Linked DNA regions of Homo sapiens. The protein of the gene in region 5 purifies or fractionates together with the protein of the main gene of each other region. This does not show direct contact. Each region holds a gene or a part of one and is shown on either strand. Other genes may lie near its edges. The genes, in order: NSRP1, TOMM34, PLBD2, CEP120, CHORDC1, KDM4B and IARS2.

The links.
Region 1: the proteins of CHORDC1 (region 5) and NSRP1 purify together in Homo sapiens (affinity purification with mass spectrometry; one large-scale study listed by BioGRID and IntAct). This does not show direct contact.
Region 2: the proteins of CHORDC1 (region 5) and TOMM34 purify together in Homo sapiens (affinity purification with mass spectrometry; one study listed by BioGRID and IntAct). This does not show direct contact.
Region 3: the proteins of CHORDC1 (region 5) and PLBD2 purify together in Homo sapiens (affinity purification with mass spectrometry; one large-scale study listed by BioGRID and IntAct). This does not show direct contact.
Region 4: the proteins of CHORDC1 (region 5) and CEP120 purify together in Homo sapiens (affinity purification with mass spectrometry; one large-scale study listed by BioGRID and IntAct). This does not show direct contact.
Region 6: the proteins of CHORDC1 (region 5) and KDM4B purify together in Homo sapiens (affinity purification with mass spectrometry; one large-scale study listed by BioGRID and IntAct). This does not show direct contact.
Region 7: the proteins of CHORDC1 (region 5) and IARS2 purify together in Homo sapiens (affinity purification with mass spectrometry; one large-scale study listed by BioGRID and IntAct). This does not show direct contact.

The regions. Positions count from the first base shown.
Region 1 is NC_000017.11:30,179,316-30,182,815, reverse strand, and holds part of NSRP1 (nuclear speckle splicing regulatory protein 1), read right to left. Parts: intron 1,909-3,500; coding exon 1,800-1,908; intron 1-1,799. UniProt on the Homo sapiens protein: RNA-binding protein that mediates pre-mRNA alternative splicing regulation.
Region 2 is NC_000020.11:44,946,898-44,950,397, forward strand, and holds part of TOMM34 (mitochondrial import receptor subunit TOM34), read right to left. Parts: intron 1,981-3,500; coding exon 1,833-1,980; intron 1-1,832. UniProt on the Homo sapiens protein: Plays a role in the import of cytosolically synthesized preproteins into mitochondria. Binds the mature portion of precursor proteins. Interacts with cellular components, and possesses weak ATPase activity.
Region 3 is NC_000012.12:113,365,087-113,368,586, forward strand, and holds part of PLBD2 (putative phospholipase B-like 2 isoform 1 precursor), read left to right. Parts: intron 1-3,500. UniProt on the Homo sapiens protein: Putative phospholipase.
Region 4 is NC_000005.10:123,413,404-123,416,903, forward strand, and holds part of CEP120 (centrosomal protein of 120 kDa), read right to left. Parts: intron 2,722-3,500; coding exon 2,607-2,721; intron 1-2,606. UniProt on the Homo sapiens protein: Plays a role in the microtubule-dependent coupling of the nucleus and the centrosome.
Region 5 is NC_000011.10:90,202,990-90,206,049, reverse strand, and holds part of CHORDC1 (cysteine and histidine-rich domain-containing protein 1), read left to right. Parts: intron 1-484; coding exon 485-590; intron 591-2,622; coding exon 2,623-2,742; intron 2,743-3,060. UniProt on the Homo sapiens protein: Regulates centrosome duplication, probably by inhibiting the kinase activity of ROCK2. Proposed to act as co-chaperone for HSP90. May play a role in the regulation of NOD1 via a HSP90 chaperone complex. In vitro, has intrinsic chaperone activity.
Region 6 is NC_000019.10:5,147,113-5,150,605, forward strand, and holds part of KDM4B (lysine-specific demethylase 4B), read left to right. Parts: intron 1-3,245; coding exon 3,246-3,338; intron 3,339-3,493. UniProt on the Homo sapiens protein: Histone demethylase that specifically demethylates 'Lys-9' of histone H3, thereby playing a role in histone code. Does not demethylate histone H3 'Lys-4', H3 'Lys-27', H3 'Lys-36' nor H4 'Lys-20'.
Region 7 is NC_000001.11:220,104,132-220,107,631, forward strand, and holds part of IARS2 (isoleucine--tRNA ligase, mitochondrial precursor), read left to right. Parts: intron 1-1,759; coding exon 1,760-1,929; intron 1,930-2,929; coding exon 2,930-3,020; intron 3,021-3,500.

The DNA.
Region 1 (3,500 bases), on a different chromosome or scaffold from region 5:
ACAACAGGCGCCCGCCACCACGCCTGGCTAATTTTTTGTATTTTTAGTAGAGACGGGATTTCACCGTGCTGGCCAGGATGGTCTCAATCTCCTGACCTCGCAATCCGCCCGCCTTGGCCTCCCAAAGTGCTGGGATTATAGGCATGAGCCACCGTGCCCAGCCATTTTATTTTTTGAGATGGAGTCTGGCTCTGTCGCCAGGTTGGAGTGCAGTGGCGCTATCTCAGCTCACTGCAATCTCCGCCTCCCGAGTTTAAGCAATTCTCCTGCCTCAACCTCCCCAGGAGGTGGGATTACAGGCATGTGCCACAATGCCGAGCTAATTTTTGTATTTTTAGTAGAGACAGGGTTTCACCATGTTGGCCAGGATGGTCTCCATCTCCTGATCTCATGATCCACCTGCCTCAGCCTCCCAAAGTGCTGGGATAACAGGCGTGAGTCACTGCGCCCAACCTACTTTATTTACTTTAAATTAATTTAAGTAGCTACACGTGACTAGTGCCTACATACTAACAGTGCAGTTCTAGCCCCGATATGTAAGTCTTACATTTTAGGAAGGCTGGGTTCTATTTATGAAAACAAACCACTTTCCTTTTTATACACTATCTGAACATGTATATAAGACTTATATTGTAGACACCTAATTCTTTCCAACTTTCTCCTTAATTCTGACAGCAAAATCATTTTAAGGTACCAGGCACCAATCATTTTAAGGATCATGAGGAATACCCACATTCTTATTTAAAAAAAAAAAAAAAAAAAAAAAAGCAGCCAGGTGCAGTGGCTCATACCTGTAATCCCAGCACTTTGGGAGGCTGAGATAGAGGGGGGATCCCTCAAACCCAGGAGTTCAAGACCAGCCTGGGCAACATAAAGCCCCATCTCCACAACAAAAATACAAAAAGAGGCTGGGCGTGGTGGCTCATGCATATAATCCCAGTACTTTGGGAGGCCGAGGCGGGTGGATCACCTGAGGTCAGGAATTCGAGACTAGTCTGGCCAACATGGTGAAACTCCATCTCTACTAAAAATACAAAGATTAGCCGGGCGTAGTGCATGCACCTATAGTCCCAGCTACTCAGGAAGCTGAGGCACGAGAATCCCTTGAACTTGAGAGGCAGAGGTTGCAGTAAGCAGAGATCGCGCCATTGCACTCCAGCCTGGGTGACAGAGCAAGACTCCATTCCATCTAAAAAAAAAAAAAACAAAAAAAAAAAACCACACACACAACAACAACAACAAAAAACACAAAAAGAAAATTCGCTGGGCATGATGGCTTGCACCTGTAGTCCCAGCTACTTGGGAGGATCATTTGAGCCCATGAGGCAAAGGCTGCAGTGAGCTATGATTGAACCACTGTACTCCATCCACCCTAGGCGACAGAGTGAGACTCTGCCTCAAAAAAAAAAAAAAAAAAGAAAAAAGAAAAAACTACAATTTGATTTTGCTTTCCCTTGAAGATTTTGCTCTCCCTTGTTAAGACCCATAAATCACTTAAAAATTCAGAAACTTTATACATTAAAAGTCTGTCTTTGGTTTTACAATAATATTAAACTCAATCACTGTTTTAATGTAACAATTTCTGTGAAATGCAGAATAAAAATGATCTTAAACTAAATCTGTAGGTTTTAAAATCAAGAAACTGCAAATTTCTAGCCATTCATTCAGTTAGGTAAGGCTGGCTGACAACACAATATGCAATGTTGTAATCTTCCATCTTTCAGAGGGTTAAAATGACCCCACAACCACAGATTATTAACAGTATTTTTCTTCAAAATATTTCATACACGTCTCCTCACCTGGCTTCACGAAAGCTGCATTTAGGTACTTCCTCTTCACCAACTGCTTGATTTAATAGGTGCCTATAAAATCCACTGAGATCTTTCTGCTTGGTTACATCCAAACATGCTAACAGAGGGAAAGCAAAAATTAGAATATATTCAATAAGGCACAGTGCAGTTTCATTTTACAGACATACAGTATATAACATACAGTGTGTAAACTACTCGCTGGATCAGGAGTTGGCAAACTGCAGGCCAAATCTGGCCTGTTGCCTGTTTTCATAAATAAATTTTTATTGAAACAAAGCCCTGTTCATTTATGTATTGTCCACAACTGCTTTTGTACTACAAAGGCAGAGCTCAGTAACTGCGACAGAGATCATATACACAAAAAGCCCTAAAGTATGAATATGATCTGGCATTCAAAATATGAATTTATAAATTTAAAGTCTTAAAATATGAATACTAAAATACTATCTGGTCCTTTACAGAAAGTTTGCCGACTGGCACTCTAAACACATAGTACATGCTTAGACAGAATGTTATAGACTTGGTTTTCTTCTACTTAAAAGCTGAAGAGGATGGGCGCAGTGGCTCACGCCTGTAATCCTACAACTTTGGGAGGCTGAGGTGGGTGGATCACCTGAGCTCAGGAGTTCGAGACCAACCTGGCCAACATGGTAAAACTCCGTCTCTATAAAAATATAAAAATTATCCAGGTGTGGTGGTGCATGCCTGTAATCCCAGCTACTTGGGAGCCTGAGGCATAAGAATCACTTGAACTTGGGAGGCAGAGGTTGCAGTGAGCCAAGATCATACGACTGCACTCCAGCCTGGGCGACACAGCGAGACTCTGTCCAAAAAGCTGATGAGCATTTGTCAATTAAAGTATTTACAGGGCTGGTCATGGTGGCTCACACCTGTAATGCCAACACTTTGGGAGGCTGAGGCAGGAAGATTGCTTGAGCCCAGGAGTTCGAGACCAGCCCCGGCAACATAGTGAGACCCCGTCTCTACAAAAAATACAAAAAGTAACCAGACGTGGTGGTATGTTCCCGTAGTCCCAGCTACTCAAGAGGCTGAGGTGGGAGGATCACTGGAGCCTGGGAGGTCAGGGCTGCAGTGAGCCATGGTTGAGCCACTGCACTCCAGCCTGGGTGACAGAGACCCAGTCTCAAAAAAAAAAGTATTTTATAAATACATATTCTACTTAGATCTTGAGAAATAATCATGAGTAGAAAGCACTAAGGTAAAGCATTAAGATATTCTTAATTCATCCAATTTTTATTCTTTCTTCAATTAATGTTATTCTTTTTCTAATTGCCTCATTGATCCTCCTTGAGTGGTGTTACTCTATTATTTTCTCATCCCAAAAAAATGTAACTAGGGTTTAAAATTATATTTATATTGTTTCTGACAAATGCCATGGCGTTATACTTTGTAATAAATGTTTTTACATTTCAGATCATGTTCTAAGGCAAAAGCCACAAAATGAGAACTAAGAGAAAAGTCTAGTAGAAATAATAGTTACTGAAGAGTTCAACTGTGTTTTTAGTTAAACTTTCCTTTCTGTTTTATACTGCTATATAATACCATATTCCTTGTGTCTTGAATTCCTATATATAAATTATGATCACAAACTCATAACCCTAAAGTTCAGTGACAGAGCAAACAGCTAACCACAGGGGAGAGATTCTGCTACTGTTTCCTTGTGCCTTT
Region 2 (3,500 bases), on a different chromosome or scaffold from region 5:
TAGCTAGAAGAACAAACATGGGAAAATACTAGGAATGCTCTGATTAAGAAGAATGAAGAAAAGACCAGCCCTATAAGATATTATAAAGCAAAAGCAATTAAAACAGTGTGGCACAGACACCTGCATGAAGAACAGTATCTAAACAAGACAAAACACAGCTCCAAATATGGTAATGATCCAGAAAAATGAGTTAATGGAGGTGTCCAGCAGCATAAGGTAAGCAATGTGAAAGAGGGTCCAGAGATAGAGGAGTTAGAAGATGCCACACAAATATGGAACAAATAGGCTGCAGGCTTCTTTTTCAAATTAGCCTGGCAAATTGTGGCCCCTCTGGTCCAATCAGCAATAAAACCACATAAAACCACAGGTGCAAAATTCCAAAATATAAGCTTTAAAACTACAAGTTCTCTTTCCAACTCATTGGGCAGCAAAACCTGATCTGAACTGACATGAAGCTATTTAGTTTCTCTATTCCACCCCATGTGAACATGGAATTTTCAAGTTTCACTGGCAGAAATACTAATAATTAACTTCTGCAAGCTGCCCCAGACACTGCTGGGGTGTTACATAATTCAGACCATATTACCTCACTAAAATGGAAAACACTTCTTTTTTTTTTGTGACAGAGTCTCGCTCTGTCACCCAGGCTGGAGTGCAGTGGCACAATCTTGGCTCACTGTAACCTCTGCCTCCTGGGTTCAAGTGATTCTCCTGCCTCAGCCTCCTGAGTAGCTGAGATCACAGGCATGTGCCACAGCGCCCAGCTGATTTTTTGTATTTTTAGTAGAGATGGGGTTTTGCCGTGTTGGCCAGGCTGGTCTCAAACTCCTGACCTCAAGTGATCCTCCCGGAGCCTCAGCCTCCCAAAGTGTTGGGATTACAGGCATTGAGCCACCGTGGCTGGAAAACACATTTTATCTCAAGAGTTTGGAATAAGGAACAATGTGTCTATATTAGATCCAAGATTTTTGAACTAGAGAGTGATATGTGTATGCTGGTAGGGAAGGATAAACAGATTTCTAACATTTTATAATGTTTTATACTAAGCATTTGGTTTTGATATGGTCTCTTGCTGAATGTTTCAAGCTTCTGAGAGTAAAAGTAACAGGAAGATCTTGTTGAAGTCAGATTCCAATTCTTGTGCCAACATTTACTGGCTGGCTGAGTTTAAAGCAAAACCCTTCCTTCTCTGAGCCTCAATTTTCTAAACACTAAAACAGAAAGACCACCTATACGAGCATTGTTGGAGAACAATCACTCCTACACAGTGAAGGGACCGCACCCTGGCTCCCAGGTTCTCAGTCAGTGGTCACTGACGGCAGCTCCTGGTGCAGGACTTTCTACAGGCCCACAAGTCTAACCTTTCAGGCTAGACTGTACCCATCCTTCCTGCTCTCATGCCAGGCAATGGTTACTTCACATTTTGGCTTCTGGGCCAGTACTCTCAGACAGAAATGGTGCCAGAATTTCTAACAGGAGGGTCTTGGAGAAGGGTAGGGAGCAGCGTAGCGTGGTGGGGTGGACAGGCTAAGAGACTTGTGTTAGGGTTGTGTTTGCAGAGCAGGCACACTGCTTTTAGTTACATTGCATGCTTATGAAAATTCTGGGGACAGGGGCCAACAAAGCCCAGGCTACCATTTGGCATCCCTCAGTTTCTACCCTTTTGAGAGAATGAATGCCACTGGTCATGGCTAGCTCACAACGTGGATGCATGTTTTCAGCCATAACATACTTGACTAAATGCTAGGGATGAAGGGCCCATTGCAGTCCAAGAGAAGACTATGGAACAAATGTCCTGAAATGCCCCAGGCCAGCAGCTGTATAGGAGATACCTGTTGCTGTACGTGGCAGATTCCAGGTTACTACACAAGAGGCTTTCACTGTACTTCTCAATAGCTTTCTTATGGTTTCCCTTCTTTACAAGCTCATTGCCTTCTTCCTTCAGAACTCTGGCTTTCTCCACATCCCCAGCAGAAGGCACTAGATACAAATTCAGAAGAGGAAAAAAACCATGGAGCAGCACCCAACTGAGATCAGTGAGGTCTCTTCAGCATCGTCCCTTCCAAACTGACTACAATCCTCTCTCCCAGAGATTTCCTCCCCTGCTGTAAATCATCCTTCCTGATTAATGACTTCCCCCAATTAATAGCTTCTGGGCAATTCAACAGTTTTTCATCAAGAAGTTGGGGAATCCTGATATAAAAACATTTTTGCATGCACATAAAAATATATAAATGATAAAAAGCAACCCAGGTTCTAGCCTTGGCACTGCCTCTTGGTAGCTGGAAGATCTTGTGTGACCTACCTAACTTTTGGACCTCAATTTCCTCACCAATAAAATAGGGCAATACTAATTCCACAGATGGCTATTTTCAGGGTCAAATCTGAGAGTATGTAAGAAAGTACGGAACACACTATAAACTTAAAGCAGGACAATAAGTAAATAAATACTAATAAACAAATATCTGGTAAAGAAAAGGTATAGCTTCTGGGCTATGAGAAAAGGGGAGAAGAGCCTGCTATTCCTCATTTCTGGTTTGGGCTGAGCCTGTGAGTATCCTCCCTCATCTAACACATGCAGCTCTGCTCCAGCCTTCAAGGAGAGGAAGCAGAGGGAACATGGTGAAATCCAAGCTGCTCAACTTGGTGTTCAGGCCCTTCACTGCTTGGCCCCAATTAATTATTCCAGCCTCAGCTCCATATCATCTGCTTTTCAAAAATTTTTAAAACTATCTTTATAAAATACTAAATATTTATGACCAGGGTAAGATTATAGGTTTACACCCTGAATTCATTGCCTGGTTTAAGAAAAAGAACATAACTAGGACCTTTGAAGTCCTGGGGGACCTTCCTCAATTCAATCCACTGCTGGAGGAAACTATTATCCCCAATTCTGTGCTTCTTCCCCACCTTTTTAAACAGTATAACTATATACAACAGTACCCACAGATCATTTGCTGTTTACTTTGTTTTTGAACTTCATACAGAAGAATAAGTCTGTGTATTCTTTTATGACTTGGTTTTTCTTTTTCCCCTTAATGTTATATTTCTGAGATTCATCTGTGTTGATGCACAGACCTGCAGCTCCTTCATTTTCATTGCTGCAATACCAAAGCTGAATTGTCCATTCTCCCATTTATGGAGATCTGGGTTATCTCCAGTTGTTTTTTGCTATTACAGTCTTCTACGAACATTTGTGGGTACATCTCCCTGTGCACATGCACACAGGTTTCTCTTGAAGTAGGGCTTCAGCTTCACTGGCACCCTGCAACACACCACTCTGCAGTCATCCTTATTCCTACTGTTCCCCCCATGCACTTTCATTCTCCAACTCTCTCCACTGTCTCTGCCAAGGATTCTCCTTCCTTCCCACCTGATGACCTTCTTCAAGGTCCAGCTCAAGGCTCCACCTCCATTGCCACCCCTTCTGAGTCTTTCCCCGACTCCCTCATGCACTTAAGTCAGTTTCTATCCTGAAGTCCTCAAACACTAAGACTCTA
Region 3 (3,500 bases), on a different chromosome or scaffold from region 5:
TGGCTGTCATCTGCATTTGATAAGAACTATACCTCCTTGCCCCCAACACTCCCCCACAAACCTGAGTTGAGTTAGAGGCGCAGAGCATTCACTCAAGAATGTTAGTCTCAGCTCTGCTGCTCACCTGCTGTGTGACCTTGGGCAAATCACTTCATCTAACTGTATTATGTGGGAGCCTCGGTTCCCCACATCTGTAAAATGGGAAGAATAAAACCCATGTCATACGGTTGTTGGAAGAATTTTTTTTTTTTTTTTGACAGAGTCTCATTCTGTCACCCCGGCTGGAGTATAGTGGCACAATCTTAGCTTACTGTAACCTCCCGGGTTCAAGCGATTCATGCCTCAGTCACCAGAGTAGCTGGGACTACAGGCACGCACCACTACACCCAGCTAATTTTTGTAGTTTTAGTAGAGACGAGGTTTCACCATGTTAGCCAGGCTGGTCTCAAACTCCTGACCTCAAGTGATCGCCCTCCTCAGCTTCCCAAAGTGCTGGGATTACAGGCGTGAGCCACCGAGCCCTGGCCATTTTTGGAAGAATTTAGAGTTACATAAAAATGTAAGTACTTACCACAGTTTCTGGGGCTACTGTAATTCCCTGTATCAAGGCCCCACTAAAGATCCCCACAGCCCCACCCTGCTGGCCCCAAAGTACTTTGCTTTGGAACATTCAGAACTCAGGCTTCTTCCTTTTACTTTCTCTCTTCTCTTCACCTGGCAAACTCCTATGTAAACTTCAAAACCCAGAACAGCTGTCACCTCTTCTGTGATGCCTTCACAGATTGTAGTCAGATAATTGTAGCAGCAGCAGTATACCTCCTCAGGACAACCCCTTGACACTTTATTCGTTTTTCCATCATAATGGTTACCCCGTTATGTCCTTATCTGTTTTCATGCCTTTCCCCTCTGCTGCCACTAGCATTTTGAAGGCCAGATGAACATCATTCATCCTTAGATACCCTCAATGTCTGGCAGCCAGTAGGCACTCAAAAAGGCTTGCTTACTGAAGGTATCAGATGTGGGCATTTTTGAGTCTTTCCCTCTCCAGAGTCTTCTCCAGGGCTGAGCTATTCCTGTCCTGGAAGTGTTCGATGGCTTTTTAGCCAACTTCCCACGAGACAGCCCTGGCCAAGCCTGCCTCTCCCTGTCTTGTACCCTCTTCAAGGTCTCTTTAGCGTCTTCCTGTTGCCCTCATTTTCTTAATAGAAATTGCCTTTAAAAATGCTTCCCCCCGCTAGTTATAGAAATGACATGAGTGAATATTTTTGTGTCCTTGGAGCAAAAATGATATCTAGCACCGTGAAGGAAAAGATTGATCTGGTTACACAAAAATGAAAACGTCTATATGGCAAGAACAAATGCAAAAACCAATTAAAACACAAACATATTTTCTCTTATTATTATTTTAGAGAGAGGGTCATGCTCTGTCATCCAGGCTGGAGTGCAGTGGAATGATCATAACTTACTGCAGCCTCAAACTCTTGGGCTCAAGTGATCTTCCTGCCTCAACCTCTTGAGTAGCTGGGACTACAGGCACACCCCACTGCACCTGTAACTTTTAAATTATTTCGTGTAGACAGAGTCTTGCTTTCCCAGGCTGGTCTTGAACTCCTGGCCTCAAGTGATGCTCCTGCCTTAGCCTCCTAAGGTGCTAGGATTATAGGCATCAGCCACCTGGCCTCTCCCCACTCCCCTCCTTCCCTCCTCCTCCTCTCCCTCCCTCCCCCTTCCCTCCCCTTCTTTTTTCTTTTTCTAGACAGAGTCATGCTCTGTCACCCAGGCTGGAGTGCAGTGGTGCCATTTTGCTCACTGCAACCTCCGCCTCCCAGTTCAAGCGATTCTCCTGCCTCAGGCTCCTGAGTAGCTGGGACTACAAGAGTGTACCACTACACCCAGCTGATTATTCTATTTTTAGTAGACATGGGGGTTTCACCATGTTGGCCAGGCTGGTCTCAAATTTCTCGAATTCTTGGCCAGCCAAAGTGCTGGGATTACAGGCATGAGCCACTGTGCTTGGCCCCGTATTCTCAATGTTAGTGACAAGCAGAGGGCTAATGTGTATACAGGGAATTTCACCAACCAATAAGAAAAGATTTTTAAAAACCCAATAGAGAAAAATGGATAAAGGACATGAAACAGAGAAATATAAATGACCAATAAAAATAAGAAAATATATGTAACTCAACTAATTTAAAAATTGGAAGCATGTTGGAACTTCTGCAGCTATCACCTTGGTAAAGATGAAAAAGTTTGCTAGTAATCATTTTAGTGAGGGAGTGGGCAAACAGAAGTTTGCTCATTGTAGAGACTCAGTCTGTGACCTGCTATGGTTCCAGGACTGGCAGTGTTGGCATTACCTGGAGGCTACTTAGAAGTGCAGAGCCCGGGCATAGTGGCTCATGCCTGTAATCCCATCACTTTGGGAGGCCGAGGCAGGTGGATCACTTGACGTCAGGAGTTCAAGACCAGCCTGGCCAACATGGTGAAACCCCGTCTCTACAAAAAATACCAAAATTAGCTGGGTGTGGTGGCACATGCCTGTAGTTCTAGCTACTCAGGAGGCGTAGGTGGAAGGATAGTTTGAGCCTGGGAGGCCGGAGGCTGCAGTGTGCCAAGATCATGCCGCTGCACTTCAGCCTGGGTGACAGCAAGATGCTGTCTCAAAAAAAAAAAAAAAAAGAAAAAAGCCCTGGTGCAGTGGCCTTAAGCTACTGTAAAGTATCTTAACAAAGTGCCTGTAATCCCAGCACTTTGGGAGGCTGAGGTGGGCGGATCTCTTGAGGCCAGGAGTTCTAGACCAGACTGGCCAACATGGTAAAACCCTGTCTCTACTAAAAATACACAAATTAGCTGGGTGTGGTGGCTCACACCTGTAATCCCAGCTACCCCGGAGGCTGAGGCAGGAGAATCACTTGAACCTGGGAGGCAGAGGTTGCAGTGAGCTGAGATCATGCCAGTACCCCCCAGCCTGGGAAACAGCCAGACTCTGTCTCAGGAAAAAAAAAAAACAAGAATCTCAGACCCCATTGCAGAACTGATCAGAACCTGCCTTCTAACCAGGCCTTCAGGTAACCTGCATATATACATCAGAGGTTGAGAAGTGCTCCTTCAGAGGAGTGGGAGCCAGCCTGCCTGGAAGTGAATCCTGCCCCTGCCAACTCTGTGACCTTTCACATGTATCCGCTAGTATTGGGCAGCAGTGCTGTGTGATAAACCAGCCCCAATCCAGCAGCTTAAACCAACAACATTGATTCTCATGGATCCGTGGGGCTGCTGGGGCAGCTCTACTTCATGCTGCAGCTCTACAGACCTGGTGTGCTTGTGTGGCTCTCATATCCCTGGGACCAGTGGGCTGGCCGGGGCTTGTTCTTCCCATGGTGATGGCAGAGGCACAAAGGGGCAAGTGAGGCTTCCTGAAGGCTAATCTTATAACTAGCATGCTGTCACTTCCACCCATATCCCATTGGCCAAAGCAGGTCACGTGACACAACCAAGCCCAA
Region 4 (3,500 bases), on a different chromosome or scaffold from region 5:
CTTGACTGATACTCGAACAAAAGCCTTCTTACAGAATGAAGCATCCTAAATTATTTGAATATCCCCACTAGACCAACCTCAGAAATTCTAGTACTCAAGATAGCCTGAAAAATATCATGCCTACATATATTATTAGGGCAGGAACCACTGATCAGTGGGAATACCATTTCAATACTTGGAAACAGCATTTTTTACTCTGATCATTTGTTATATAAAGATATAGTAGATGGTGCTTATATTGTCTTTGTTATATAAAGACATAATAAATGGTGCCTATACTGCTATTTTATATTCAAGTCATGTTTGATAAGTAAAATAGAATTAAGTAGGCCAAAGCTTTAAATAAAAATCAACAACCTAATTTTTTAAAGATAAAAATGCATAATACAGTTTGTTGATGTATTTCTTATAACAAATATGTTATAATTTTGAATATAAGCCTGAAAGAAAGATTTCCAGCTACTCAGAGAATTGATGACTTTTTCTGTTATATAACTCAGAAAAATAAATCTGGATTTTTTTCTGTTTATATTTATTTACAGAGAATCAATTTATTTTGAACTTCAAATATTGTACTATCCAATTACAAATATTTATGCTGACAAACAGGAGAGAATAAGCAATACAGCATTTAGTTTAAATAACTGAGCCATTTCTCCCTTTGATTACAAATATGTTGACAAACTGTTCTCAAGGACAAGGGGACAAAGAATGCCAAGAGTATTTAGAGGCATGACCTCATCCCTCAGATACCCCCCTAAGAGGATTTACCTTCTCTGCAACTAAACTGACTGCAGAAGTGTCTTCTAGACACTTGCACGCTACATGAGAGAAGGTGGTTAAGAGAAACATCAAGAGCCCAATCAAAGCCCAGGGTCTAAAACTAAAGAAGGAAAAACCTTTTCAGAATAAGATCTAGTGGCAGAGAGGCAGTGAGTACCAAGGATGGGGGGAAAACAAATCCTCTTTTAAAGCATTTTTAAATTTCAGTTTCTTTTAAATTATTCCAACCTTGGGCTAGGCTGACTGATCATATGCAAATATCCTTGCTATCAGCAGCAAAAATATTAGTAAAAGATAAGTTTTTCTTCACAGAATCCCAATTTAAGATTCAAATCAAGAATGGCGTTTTAAATAAAAGAGAAGATATTATTTTAATTGTTTAACTTTTTTCCCCCCTTAAGAAAATTATGACCCAAGACAATCAGAAAAATTGCAAGGGAGATTTCTAAAGTCGGTCACATACAAAAAGGTCAGAAGATACTTAAAGCGCTAAGCAGCGGCCGGGCGCGGTGGCTCACGCCTGTAATCCCAACACTCTGGGAGGCCAAGGCCGGTGGTTCATGAGGTCAGGAGATCGAGACCATCCTGGCTAACACGGTGAAACCCCGTCTCTACTAAAAATTCAAAAAAAAAAAATTAGCTGGGCATGGTGGCGGGTGCCTGTAGTCCCAGCTACTGGGGAGGCTGAGGCGGAAGAATGGCATGAACCCGGGAGTCAGAGCTTGCAGTGAGCCGAGATCGTGCCACTACACTCCAGCCTGGGCAACAGAGCAAGACTCCATCTCAAAAAAAAAAAAAAAAAAAAAAAAAAAAAAAGCCCTAAGCAGCACCATGTTAAATAATAAAAGTCACCATCACAGGAATCAGGATGATTCTGAGTTCTTTCTCTTGGGAGTAGGGGGGCAGAGAGGTACTGGTTAGATAACATCAACTGTGTTTCAATAAGTTCACTTGCTCTGACTGCTATGCAAGGAATGCAAGGAGCAGGAAGCAGGGAGGCTATTATGATAGCCAAGGTAAGAAACAATAGCAGCTGAGTTTGGGGTGGCAGCAGTGAAAAGCAGAATAGCAGACAGATCAGGAGGGAAAAAACCCAACTGGGAACAGGTAGTTATGGAGGAAGGAAAAGGAAAAATGTCAAGGAAGACTTCTGTATTTCTAACTTGTATAACTGAAAGGGGAATGCTGACAATTCACTGAAGCAGGAAACATTAGAAGAGGATGAACCACCTTTAAAAGGAAAGCTCAGGGGCTAGGCATGTTAAGCTTCCGGTAATAGCAACTTGGATACAAGTCAGTTCAGAGATGTCTTTTTGAGCAAGACAGTTCTTGGTCAAGGAAATCACTAAAATGTTGAGATTTTCTAAATCTAATTCATAAACTAAAACATAAGAACTGCCATATTGGCTGGGTGCAGTGGCTCACACCTGTAATCCCAGCACTTTGGGAAGCCAAGGCAGGCAGATCACTTGAGGTGAGGAGTTTGAAACCAGCCTGGCCAACATAGCAAAACCCCATCACTAAAAATACAAAAGTTAGCCAGGCGTGGTGGTGAGTGCCTGTAATCCCAGCTACTCAGGAGGCTAAGGCAGGGAGAATTGCTTGAACTTGGGAAGCGGAGGTTGCAGTGAGCCAAGATTGTGCTATTGCACTCCAGCCTGGATAACAGAGACTCCGTCTCAAAAAAAAAAAGAACTGCCATATTGGCTCAAGTCTATGACTGATCAGGTCTAGTATTTCATGTCCTTTTCATCAATCTGTTATCTACTGAAAATAATCGACTGTCTAACATAATCATTAGCAAAACATCAAAAGGGCAATACCTGCTTTGTTTCTTGAGCGGTTCTTAAATCCAGAACGATGTAACCTATGGTTTCCTTGGCTGAAGTTACAGGATCCAAGGCAAAACATTGGAGTTTGATAGGAGTACGCTGTAGCCTATAACAAAACATGTGATAAATAAAATGGTTTTTGCTTAATAAACTTTCTATTGGCCTTGAAAATATTTCCTATTATCAAGATACTTATAATTTTGTTGGATAAAACTGTAACTATTTTACATTGTCTAAAAAACTCTTCAACAGGCAAGAACTAGGCCAGGCGCAATGGCTCACGCCTGTAATCCCAGCACTTTGGGAGTTCGAGGAGGGCAGATCACGAGGTCAGGAAATCGAGACCATCCTGACCAACATGGTGAAACCTCATCTCTACTAAAATTAAAAAAAACAAAAAAAAATAGCTGGGTGTGGTGCCACGCGCCTGTAATCCCAGATACTCAGGAGGCTGAGGCAGGGGAATTATGTGAACCTGGGAGGCGGAGGTTGCAGTGAGCCGAGATCGCGCCACTACACTCCAGCCTGGGTGACAGATCAAGACTCCATCTCAAAAATAAAAATAAAAATAAAAATAAAAAAAATAAACAGGTAAGAACTATTAATTATATCTACTAACCTCTACACCAACTAAATATTATACAAAACATGTCAACATATTTTACATTCTTTCATCTAAGAAGCCATCATGTAGGTCAATGTTTCTTAAGCTTCTGTAATGTGTAAAACTTTCTGAAAGTAAAAAATTATCATGAATTTTCAGGACCTATTTTATTTCTCTTATACTGTAACATACATAAAATTACAAATACAAATACATGCTTATAGCTCTTTTGTAGCTAAAAAACAAACAGGAATTAAATATAAAATAAATTAAAATTTAAA
Region 5 (3,060 bases):
TTTGTATGTTGTGTGTTTATACATGAGAAAACAGAAACAAGGTTACAGTTCTTAAGTGGTCATTGTGATATAAACTGCCTGTTTTTCTTCATATTCTGTATTTAAAAGTGATGCTATTTGGGCTAAATGTTTTGTTTGAAGGACTGTCCTACACATTGCAGGGCATTTAGAATTTTGGGCCCTGGGGCACTAAGACAACATTATCCCAAGACGACCCATACTTTTCCGCATCCTGCAGTTGAGAGCCTCTCTTCTGTATTATGCTCTAGTTTATAGAAATGCAGCACTGTGTAAAAATCTTCCACTCTGTTTCCACATTCTTCCTGATATACTGTACATTCATTTTTAGTAACTTAGACACTTGTAAAATGCTAGAGTTTGTACACTTACTGGCTTATTAAAAATCAGATTTATCCCTAAAATACTTGTGGATTTAATTGGTTGTGAGATTTTATTTCTGAAGTTTTTCTGTGATAATTTAAAGGATGAAATACTGGAGCTGTTGTAGAAGAAAAACTTCTGATTTTAATACATTCTTAGCCCAAGAGGGCTGTACAAAAGGGAAACACATGTGGACTAAAAAAGATGCTGTAAGTAACTCTTCCAAAAATAGCACACTGGGTTTATATTCATCTGAGTCATTTTTTAAAGATTTGAAATTATTCTGTCTTTAGATTTTAAAAAAAAGTTTTCTTTTTTGCACCATAGAGCTTTGATGTGACTACGAAATAAAATGAATCTGAGTCAAGCTGCCAGTGTACTGCCTTTTGAGCAAAATAGCCATTGTCTGTTTTGATGCAAGCATGTGAGGTTTTGTGAAATACTTAAGCCTGACAAAATTGAAGAATTTTTGTCTTCTTTAATTAATAAAATTAGCTCCATGGCCTCTTCCTACTTTTTGTTTTTTAAAAATTACTTTTCTATGAATTTGATGACGTTAAACGTTTAGACCTCTGTTATTCTTTTGGCCACTTAAAACTTCAATCATTTACAGATGCACAAACACTCCATCTAGTGGCCAGAGAGGAGGATTGCAGTCTTGTTTCAGTGGAATTGTTTTGAATGCCTCTGCTTGCTAATGGGATATTTATCAAAAGGGGGGAAAAAAGCATCATTTCCTACTTCCCTGGACAGCTTTTTAAAAAGACTTGGGGGCTATGCAAATAATTTCCCAAAACCCCATTAAATTGTGAGAGGATGAGCAACTTATTGCTCAATAAGTTTTTGTCTGTTAGCTATTGTTAATGTATTTTATAATGTATTAAATTTTCAAATTAATTTAGAGATTTCAATATTTTAGTCTTCTGTAGTTGCTGCCCCTCCCCCACTTTTTTTTTTCTTGAGACAGAGTCTCGCTCTGTCGCCCAGACGTGCAGTGCAGGCTCACTGCAACCTCCGCCTCCCGGGTTCAAGCAGTTATCCTGCCTCAGCCTCCCTAGTAGCTGGGACTACAGGTGCGTACCACCACGCCCAGCTAATTTTTTTGTATATTTAATAGAGACAGGTTTTCACCATCTTGGCTAGGCTGGTCTTGGACTCCTGACCTCGTGATCCACCCGCCTCGACCTCCAAAAGTGCTGGGATTATAGGCGTGAGCCACCGCGCCTGGCCCTAGTTGCTTTTTAATAACACATGGTTGGATATTATAAAAATACCCTGAAGTTATAAAAATTCATCTACCACAAAACTATCAGAAATGTTTTTAAATAAAAAGAGTGTATTTTTTATAGTCCAAAAGTTTGAAAATTTTAGTTTGAAAAAATAAAATGTTGTTTTCCATTATGTTAAGTTTGGGAGTATAATCCTAGATAAAATGATGTAATTTCTCTTGTTTTTTAATGTATGCAGTTATCAAGTATTAAGTATCTAAGCTAGTAGCTAAGGGGAAAAATGTGAGTGATATATATAATTTAAATTTAGTTAATGTAATTTTATCAAAACGAAAATAGTACCTTTTACAACAGTAGTGTCTCAGTTTCCTGAATTATGTAACTAAATTGTTCTCATTTATATAACAAATCATCATTTGCCTCTATAAAAAAAAATACTGGTAGGGCAGTATAGTATACTACTGGTATGTAAGGATTATTTTCATAATCAGAAAATCCAAAAATCATTTGTTCTTTATTAAAATGGGAAGAAAGTAATAACTGGTCAGATTTTTTTCTTAGATTCTGATTTGTAGAAAATAAATAAGGTTTCTAGTGCATGAGGTTAAGGTGTTGTCTGATTTATCCCAGTAAACAAATGTCTTTCATTTCAGTCTTCAAAGAATGTTTTGATGACAGTACTTAGTAGGTTACAGAATGTTAAATTGGATTAAATTTAGTAGGAGTTCTTAAATTGTCTTTTTAGCTGTGTATCAATATTATGGCCCTGAAAGAAAAAAACAAAGGGAAGGAGTAAGTGTGTTCTGAAATCATAAAATTTATGAAGAATCTTTGTACCATGATATATTTTCTTGTTTAAGCCTCTTGGGAAATATAGAAGTTTTTTGCCCTTAAACATTAAGTGCTTAGTTGTTGTGCATGGTAGTTTTTTCTCAGATGGGTCAAATTCCTCTTTTTAAGAAATTAATTATGTGGCACTTTTTTAACTTACAGAGTTTCTCTTACATTACAGGGGAAAAAAGTTGTTCCATGTAGACATGACTGGCATCAGACTGGAGGTGAAGTTACCATTTCAGTATATGCTAAAAACTCACTTCCAGAACTTAGCCGAGTAGAAGCAAATAGCACATTGGTAAGTACATCTTATAATTTTGGGTAAAAGTTCTTTTCTATACATCATTCTTTATGTTACTGTATTTTAAAGTATTGTTTATATCTCAGCTGATTTGGGGGTAAGATTTTATAATGACTCCCATTAAAAAAAATTAAATTACTTCTATGAAACTATTTTAAATGAAAATTTCTGTATAGTAGACTTACTGCTGAACCATTCTGGAGATACTGTAGTAGATTTATCAAGTAATATAGTACTTAGTTCTCAATATGAAACTTGAAGCCAGTTATTCTTTTTTGTCAGTGGCTTTTCTCATATGAAACAATACAGTATTGG
Region 6 (3,493 bases), on a different chromosome or scaffold from region 5:
GCCAGGACCTCTAGAACACCATGGAAGTTTACTCCAGAGATCAGGCTGAGCATGTGCCAGTCTCTCTCCCTCCCTCAAGAAACCTATGGAGATGATAGAAAACACACAAATAGATAAATAGCCATTTATAACGTACACAGAGCACAACTGTGGTGGAAAATGACAAGGGAGACTCAGGGTGGGTCTTGACAACATCCCACAGAAGAGGCGCTGACGCAGCCCCCACCCTGGTGGCGAAGGAAGTGCTCCCAGGATCATTGTCATGTCACCAGAGCCCAGGCAGGGCCAGCGTCAGGGGAGCTCACCTCAAGGAAGCCGAGCTAATGAGACAGTCAGAAATGAGATGATGCCAGCCAGGCGCGGGGGCTCATGCTGTGATCGCAGCACTGTGGGAGGCTGAGGTGGGCAGAGCGCTTGAGCACAGGGGTTCGAGACCAGCCTGGGCAACGCAGCAAAACCCTGTCTCTACAAAAAAACAAAATTAGCTGGGCATGGTGGCACGCACCTTTAGTCCCAGCTACTTGGGAAGCTGAGGTGGGAGGATCACTTGAGCCTGGGAGGTTGAGGATTCAGTGATCCAAGATCGCGCCACTGCACTCCAACCCGGGTGATGAAACAAAGCCCTGTCTCAAAAAAAAAAAAAAAAAAAAGTCACATTTCCAGAGTGCTCGGGGCGGGGGGGCAGAGGCTGTGGAATCAGGAATGGGTGGTATCGGAAGCCAGCAAGCCACCGTGGAGTGCGCGCCTGCCTGCGAGGTGGCGGCAGGACCTCGATCACACAATCATGCAAACGCCCGCTGTGTGGTGGCCAAGGAGATGGGGCTGGAGCTGCCTGCCCCGAGGCCAAGGGCCTGGTCAGCGGGGCGGGTGGCTGGGGTGGGCCCAGGTGACAGCGAGGCCGAGTGGCTGAGACCCCCACATGCCAAGGCCCCAAGAGCCTCCCCGCCTGTCCGGAACACTTGGAACATGTTTCCCTCGCACGTGACCCCTCGAGATGCTTCTGAGACGTGCCGGGCAAGACGTCACCACAGGGAGCCCGGGCCGAGGCGCACGCCTCTGATTTCCTGTAGCTGCAAGTATATCCAGTTTTCTCAAAATGTTAAAAAGCAAACGCCGCCTTCAGAACTCGCCCTGTGGAGACTCATAGTGAAAGCACGTTCCAGGGAGGCCACTGGGAGGAAATCAGCCTGAGTCTCCAGTCAGCCCCCAGTTCCCAAATGACCCAGGCACAGAAGTTTCCCTGGAGCCCACTTGGACCCGGCAGTGTGAGCGCCATCCTCCTAGGCGGTTCTGTGCTCCTGAGAATCTGGGGCGGATCTCTGCAGTCTTCCTGACCCAGAAACCTGAGCCAGTTTCCACTGAGTTTCTAGAACGCGCCTTCCCCTCCTGGCAAGGCTGCTTCTGTGCCTGACTGAATCACTGTGTGCCACGCCTGCCAGAAGCCGAGAGGCCGAGTCGGGGCCGGGGAGCTGGGGAAAGGCAGCAGGTGGGCCCTGGGACTCCTGCAGTGGGAGCTCTAAAACCCGCTGCTGCCCGTGGCAAAGCGGAGCCTCCAAAACCCGCTGCTGCCCTTGGCAAAGCGGAGCCTCCAAAACCCGCTGCTGCCCGTGGCAAAGCGGAGCCTGGCCACGCCGGGGGTGGAAATCGCTTTCCGGGGTGCTGGGGCTCCGACACTAGGACTCCTTCACCCAGACTCTCCTCACCGGACAGACGCTGGGAAGGGGCCTTCTCCCGGTGGCTTTCCTCTACAAATGAGATGGGTAGGACGGGGCAGAGGGTGGCACCCATGTCCTTGGTTCCCAGCAGGCTCCTCCACACATCCCCGAGAGATGTGTGCTGTCGTCCCAGGACACGGCCCAGAGGCAACCGGCCATCTGAGAGTCCACACTGGGCACTCCCAGCCCTGCTTCTCCCGCCGCCTGCGCCGGCCAAGAGGCATGTGGAACCCACAGCAGACACTTGCTCCAGGGCCTACGTCTGTCTCCATCCCCACCCATCCCTGGAGGAGTCACAGGGACCGGCAGGCTTGGCTGCCCCAAGGCAGGGTCTGTGCTCCCTTGGAGAGGGAGGTGCTGCGATCCCGGGCCCCCCCGCTGCACACTACGTGGGGCGTCTAGCCCCAGACACACTTCCGCGATGGTCTTACTGTGTGACTTTTATACACTTCCGTCATGGTCTTAGTGTGTGACTTTTGTACGCTTCTGTGACAGTCTTATGTGTGCATTTTGTTCATTTTGAGACGGGGTCTTGATCTGTCACCCAGCCTGGAGTGCAGTGACATAATTAGAGCTCACTACAGCCTCCACCTCAGCCTCCTGGGTAGCTGGGACCACAGGCACATGCCACCATGCCTGGCTTGTTTTGAGTTTTTAAATGTGAAAAGCGAGCCCTCTGATATGGGAACCTTCTCCCCCTGGAGCAGAACGGCAGTCAGGCCCAGGGAGTGACCCCAGCACCTTTCCTGGCTTGGGAACACGGCGCCCATCGCAGTTATGAGGTGGGCCTGGAGACACGCCCCTCCCTGGCACGCCCTTCATGGGACAGTGTTGTGTTGCCAGAGGGCCCCTGAGAGAGTCTCCGCGAGCCTGAGCTGGCACCAAGCTTAACGAGGAGGAAGCGGGGTGCTCCCAGTGCCCCTCACCAGTCAGGCATCTGCCACCTGGAACAAGGCACCAGCTGGGGAGGCTGGAAGGGGGTGATTTTTCTCTGAGTTGAAGGGAAGAGGTGACTGAGCTGTTTTCAGAGGGCCACACATAAGCCAGGGACCCTGTCCTTCACCTTCTGGTTGGGGGCTCCTGAGCTCAGGCCCCTGAGTCCGCCTGTCCGGCCTCCCCTGCCTCCCAGGCCCTGTTAGGGCACTGCGCCTCCTGCCTGGCTCTGTGTCCACCAGTGACTCTGTCACCTTGTCCTGGGGCTGTGTCTTCATGGAGACAGATGTCTTTTGAGCTGGGAGGAGGTGAGGGGTGAGTGTTCTGTCTCCATGTGGAAGCTGCGGGGCCCTGCCTCTGCCCCAGGCTGTCCCGTCCTCCGTCATCCTTGCCCCGTGGTACGGGACCCTCAGCCTGATCCTTGTTTGCTGCAGGCGGTGTCAGAGGTGGACATGAGCTTCAGCTTGGCTGCATGTGGCCTCTAGCGGGCCCCATGCACCCAAGGGGGCTGGCCTCCCAGCTCTTGAGGCCGTGGCCTGCCTGGAGCACCTGCCATCCTGGCAGTGCCAGGCCCCTGAGAGCCACATCCCCCTGCAGGTGGAGTTTGAGGACGGGTCCCAGCTGACGGTGAAGCGTGGGGACATCTTCACCCTGGAGGAGGAGCTGCCCAAGAGGGTCCGCTCTCGGCTGGTGAGTGCGCGAGGCTGGCCTGGTGGCTCCGGGTGACTCAGGGAGCCCGTCTGGGACGAGGCAGGGCACAGACTGCGTCTTCCAATGGCGTGGACCACCCCCTCCTCTTGCACCTCTGCTGGAAGGGGGTCCCGGCCGCCCCAGCACAGCTGGTC
Region 7 (3,500 bases), on a different chromosome or scaffold from region 5:
CCCGGCTAATTTTGAAAAAATATTTTACAGAGATGAATTCTTGTTGTGTAGCCCAGACTGGTCTGGAATTCCTGGGCTCAAGTGATCTGCCTGCCTTGGCCTGCCAAAGTGCTGGGATTAAAGGCGTAAGCCACTGTGCCTAGCCCAAAATAATTCTTTGTGAGCTATAATTTGGGACTTTTGAGGTAGTGACTGCTTTGAAATATAATTATGGAAGTCTAGGGAAGTTTAAAATTAGCTTTTTGTTGTTGTTGTTCTTCATTTTGTTTTGAGACGTGGTCTTGCTCTGTTGCCCAGGCTGGAGTGCAGTGGTGCCATCTTGGCTCACTGCAGCCTCTGGATCCTAGGCTCAAGTGATCTTCCTGCCTCAGCCTCTTGAGTAGCTGGGACTACAAGTGTGTGCCACCATGCTGGACTAATTTTTAATTTTTTTGGTAGAGATGAGGTCTTGCTACATTGCCCAGGCTGGTCTTGAACTCCTGGCCTCAAGTGATCCTCCTGCTTTGGTCTTCCAAAGTGCTGGGATTATGGGCATGAGCCACTGTGCCTGGACTAAAATTCTATTTTATTTTATTTTATTTTTAAAGAGATGAGGTCTCACTATGTTGCCCAGGCAGATCTTGAACTCCTGAGCTCAAGTGTTCCTCCTGCCTCTGCCTCCCAAAGTGGTAGGATTATAGACGTGAGCCACCATGCCTGGGCTAAAATTATCTTTGATCCTTAGGTATGATATATCTTTTAATTTCTTGCTAAAAAATCTATCACATGAATAAAGATACAAAAACTGCCTAGAAAGACTGCCTAGCTAAATAGGAAAGCCCTCTAAATTAATCAGTTCAGATACAAGCCAATGAGAAGTTTAAACAACCTTAACAAAAATAAAAAGATTTTTATGTCAGAGGCAGGAAAGGAGCTTAAGAATTTTGAAGACCATTTGGTCCTCTTTGGTGCAATAGGGTAATAAAAATAAAAACCAAGATAATAATTTACTTCACACCCTCTCTCACTGTGTTGCCCAGGCTTGTTTCAAACTCCTGGGCTCAAGCAATCTTCCTGCCACAGCCTCCCAAAGTGCTGCAATTACAGACATGAGCTACTGCACCCAGCCCCCTGCTCTTTTATAAATGCAGAGGATATTAAAGACTTCATTGTCAAGTTATACATTATCATAGAAGCTAAAAATCACAAGATTTTTGAAAGTGTTAAGGTTGAATTTAAAGATCTTTTGTCTAGATAGCATAATTGTTTCAAATTCTTACTATCAGATAATTATTGAGTTGCTATTTGAGTCACCATATTGTGGAGGAGTATATATATTATCCCTGTCAAAATAAGCTGGTGTCACGTAGCTACTACTTATTAAAGTAGTAGGAATGTTGAAGAGCTAAAAATGAAGTAATTTGTATGGGGTAGGTTTTCTTTCCGGAAAAAAATGAATTATTTCTTATCAATTACTTAGAGATCATTTTGGGAGGGTGGTGAGGGAGAATATTAAGTGGTAGATGCAGTAAGTATCAAAACACTTAAACTACATTAACTCTGTTTATTCTCACAGAAACCCTCTGAGGTGGGAACCATAATTATCTGCATTTTATAGATTATAGAAGGTCACAGAACAAGTTAAAGGGGAAGCTGGAATTTAAGCCTAGCCAGTATTGTTCTAGATTCTGCACATTTAACCTGATACTCTATTGCTAAGCTTAAGGAGATAGATTTGCCATATAAAATGATTCTTAATAGTGGTTTTCTTTCCCCACAGGTGTAGATTTGGAAAATGGTACTTGCAGTCATCCATTAATTCCTGATAAAGCCTCTCCTCTTTTACCTGCAAATCATGTGACCATGGCAAAAGGAACGGGATTGGTTCACACAGCCCCAGCTCATGGTATGGAAGACTACGGTGTAGCGTCTCAGCACAACCTGCCCATGGTACTGTTCCTCTTTTATCATTTTTAATTATTCATCTTAATAAAAGGAAATGATAAATTCTAACCAACATCTTCATTTTTTAAAAATGATGACTTTTGTCATCATAATTGTGAAATGCTCAGGTTTGTGTAGTACTCTAAAGTTTCATTAATTCGTACTAATTGAAAAAGATTTCCCAGAATTAATAGAAAATTAGCACTTTAGAATTGAAGAATATATATCATGGGGCACTTTTAAAATACTTTTTTTCTAGTATCAAGTCACATAGACAAATTACTTTTATTCCCTGAAAAAGCCTGTTTGTTTTAGCTAAACAGTCCTTTCTACATTTACTTTACATACTTCAGTTACTTAGCAAGTATTTCCGTTTAGTTAAAAGGTGAGTCAGAAAGGGAACAACTGTGTATATAGGCATAGATTTGGAAACAATAGAGACCACTCAAAGATGTTTTAATATATTTTGTTACTTTTGTTATTAAAGTTTATGGATATGCTTCAATAACACATTTTGGCTTTGGTGATTTAAATGTATAAAATTCACAAATTCCTATTTCCTTTTCTTTTCTTTTCTTTTTTTTTTTTTTTGAGAGGGAGTCTTGCTCTGTCGCCCAGGCTGGAGTGCAGTGGTGTGGTATGATCTCGGCTCACTGCAACCTCTACCTCCAGGGTTCAAGCGATTCTCCTGCCTCAGCCTCCCGAGTAGCTGGGACTACAGGTGCACACCACCATGCCTGGCTAATTTTTGTATTTTTAGTGGAAGTGGGTTTCACCATGTTGGCCAGGCTAGTCTCAAATTCCTGACCTCAAGTGATCTGCCCACCTCGACCTCCCAAAGTGCTGGGATTATAGGCCTGAGTGCCGCGCCCGGCCAAGTACCTAGAATTTCAATGTAGAAAAAGACCAGGCTATACTGAGATGTTTTTATATATATTGTTTTGCCAGATATTGTCATAAGAGAAAATGTCTTGATATTTTAATTGTTCAAAATGATACTTTATAGGATTGTCTAGTGGACGAAGATGGAGTTTTCACAGATGTTGCAGGTCCTGAACTTCAAAACAAGGCTGTCCTTGAAGAGGGAACTGATGTGGGTGAGCATCATATCTGTTGATATCATACATGTTTTCTGAAAAGTAGGTAGCAGTAACCTTTGCTACCTATTTTCCCTCCTTATACTTTAACAGAAACAAAAAAATAAATTATGTCTTGTTTTGCCATATGTTTTAAAATGGAGTTTGGGACTTTTTCATCTTTTGCTTTGAAGCTGCTTTATTTAAGCAAGTCAGGGCAGTCAACAGGGAGTGAAGTTATTTTAGGGCTATGGAGATAATAATCAGCAGTATTACTTTTGTGGAAGGATACAATCAAGATCAGGGCTGGATGTTGACTGTAAATTACACATTCCCTACTCACTTTTTAACCCTTGTAAATAACTGACCTATATGGCATGATTTATGTATTAGAATCTTGGGAATCCTCCAGCCTTGAATTGTCTTTCTGTCTTCCTTTACAGATTCAGAGACCAAGTGCTATGAAAACCTTTCTTTGCCCACACTAAGACTAAGGCTATT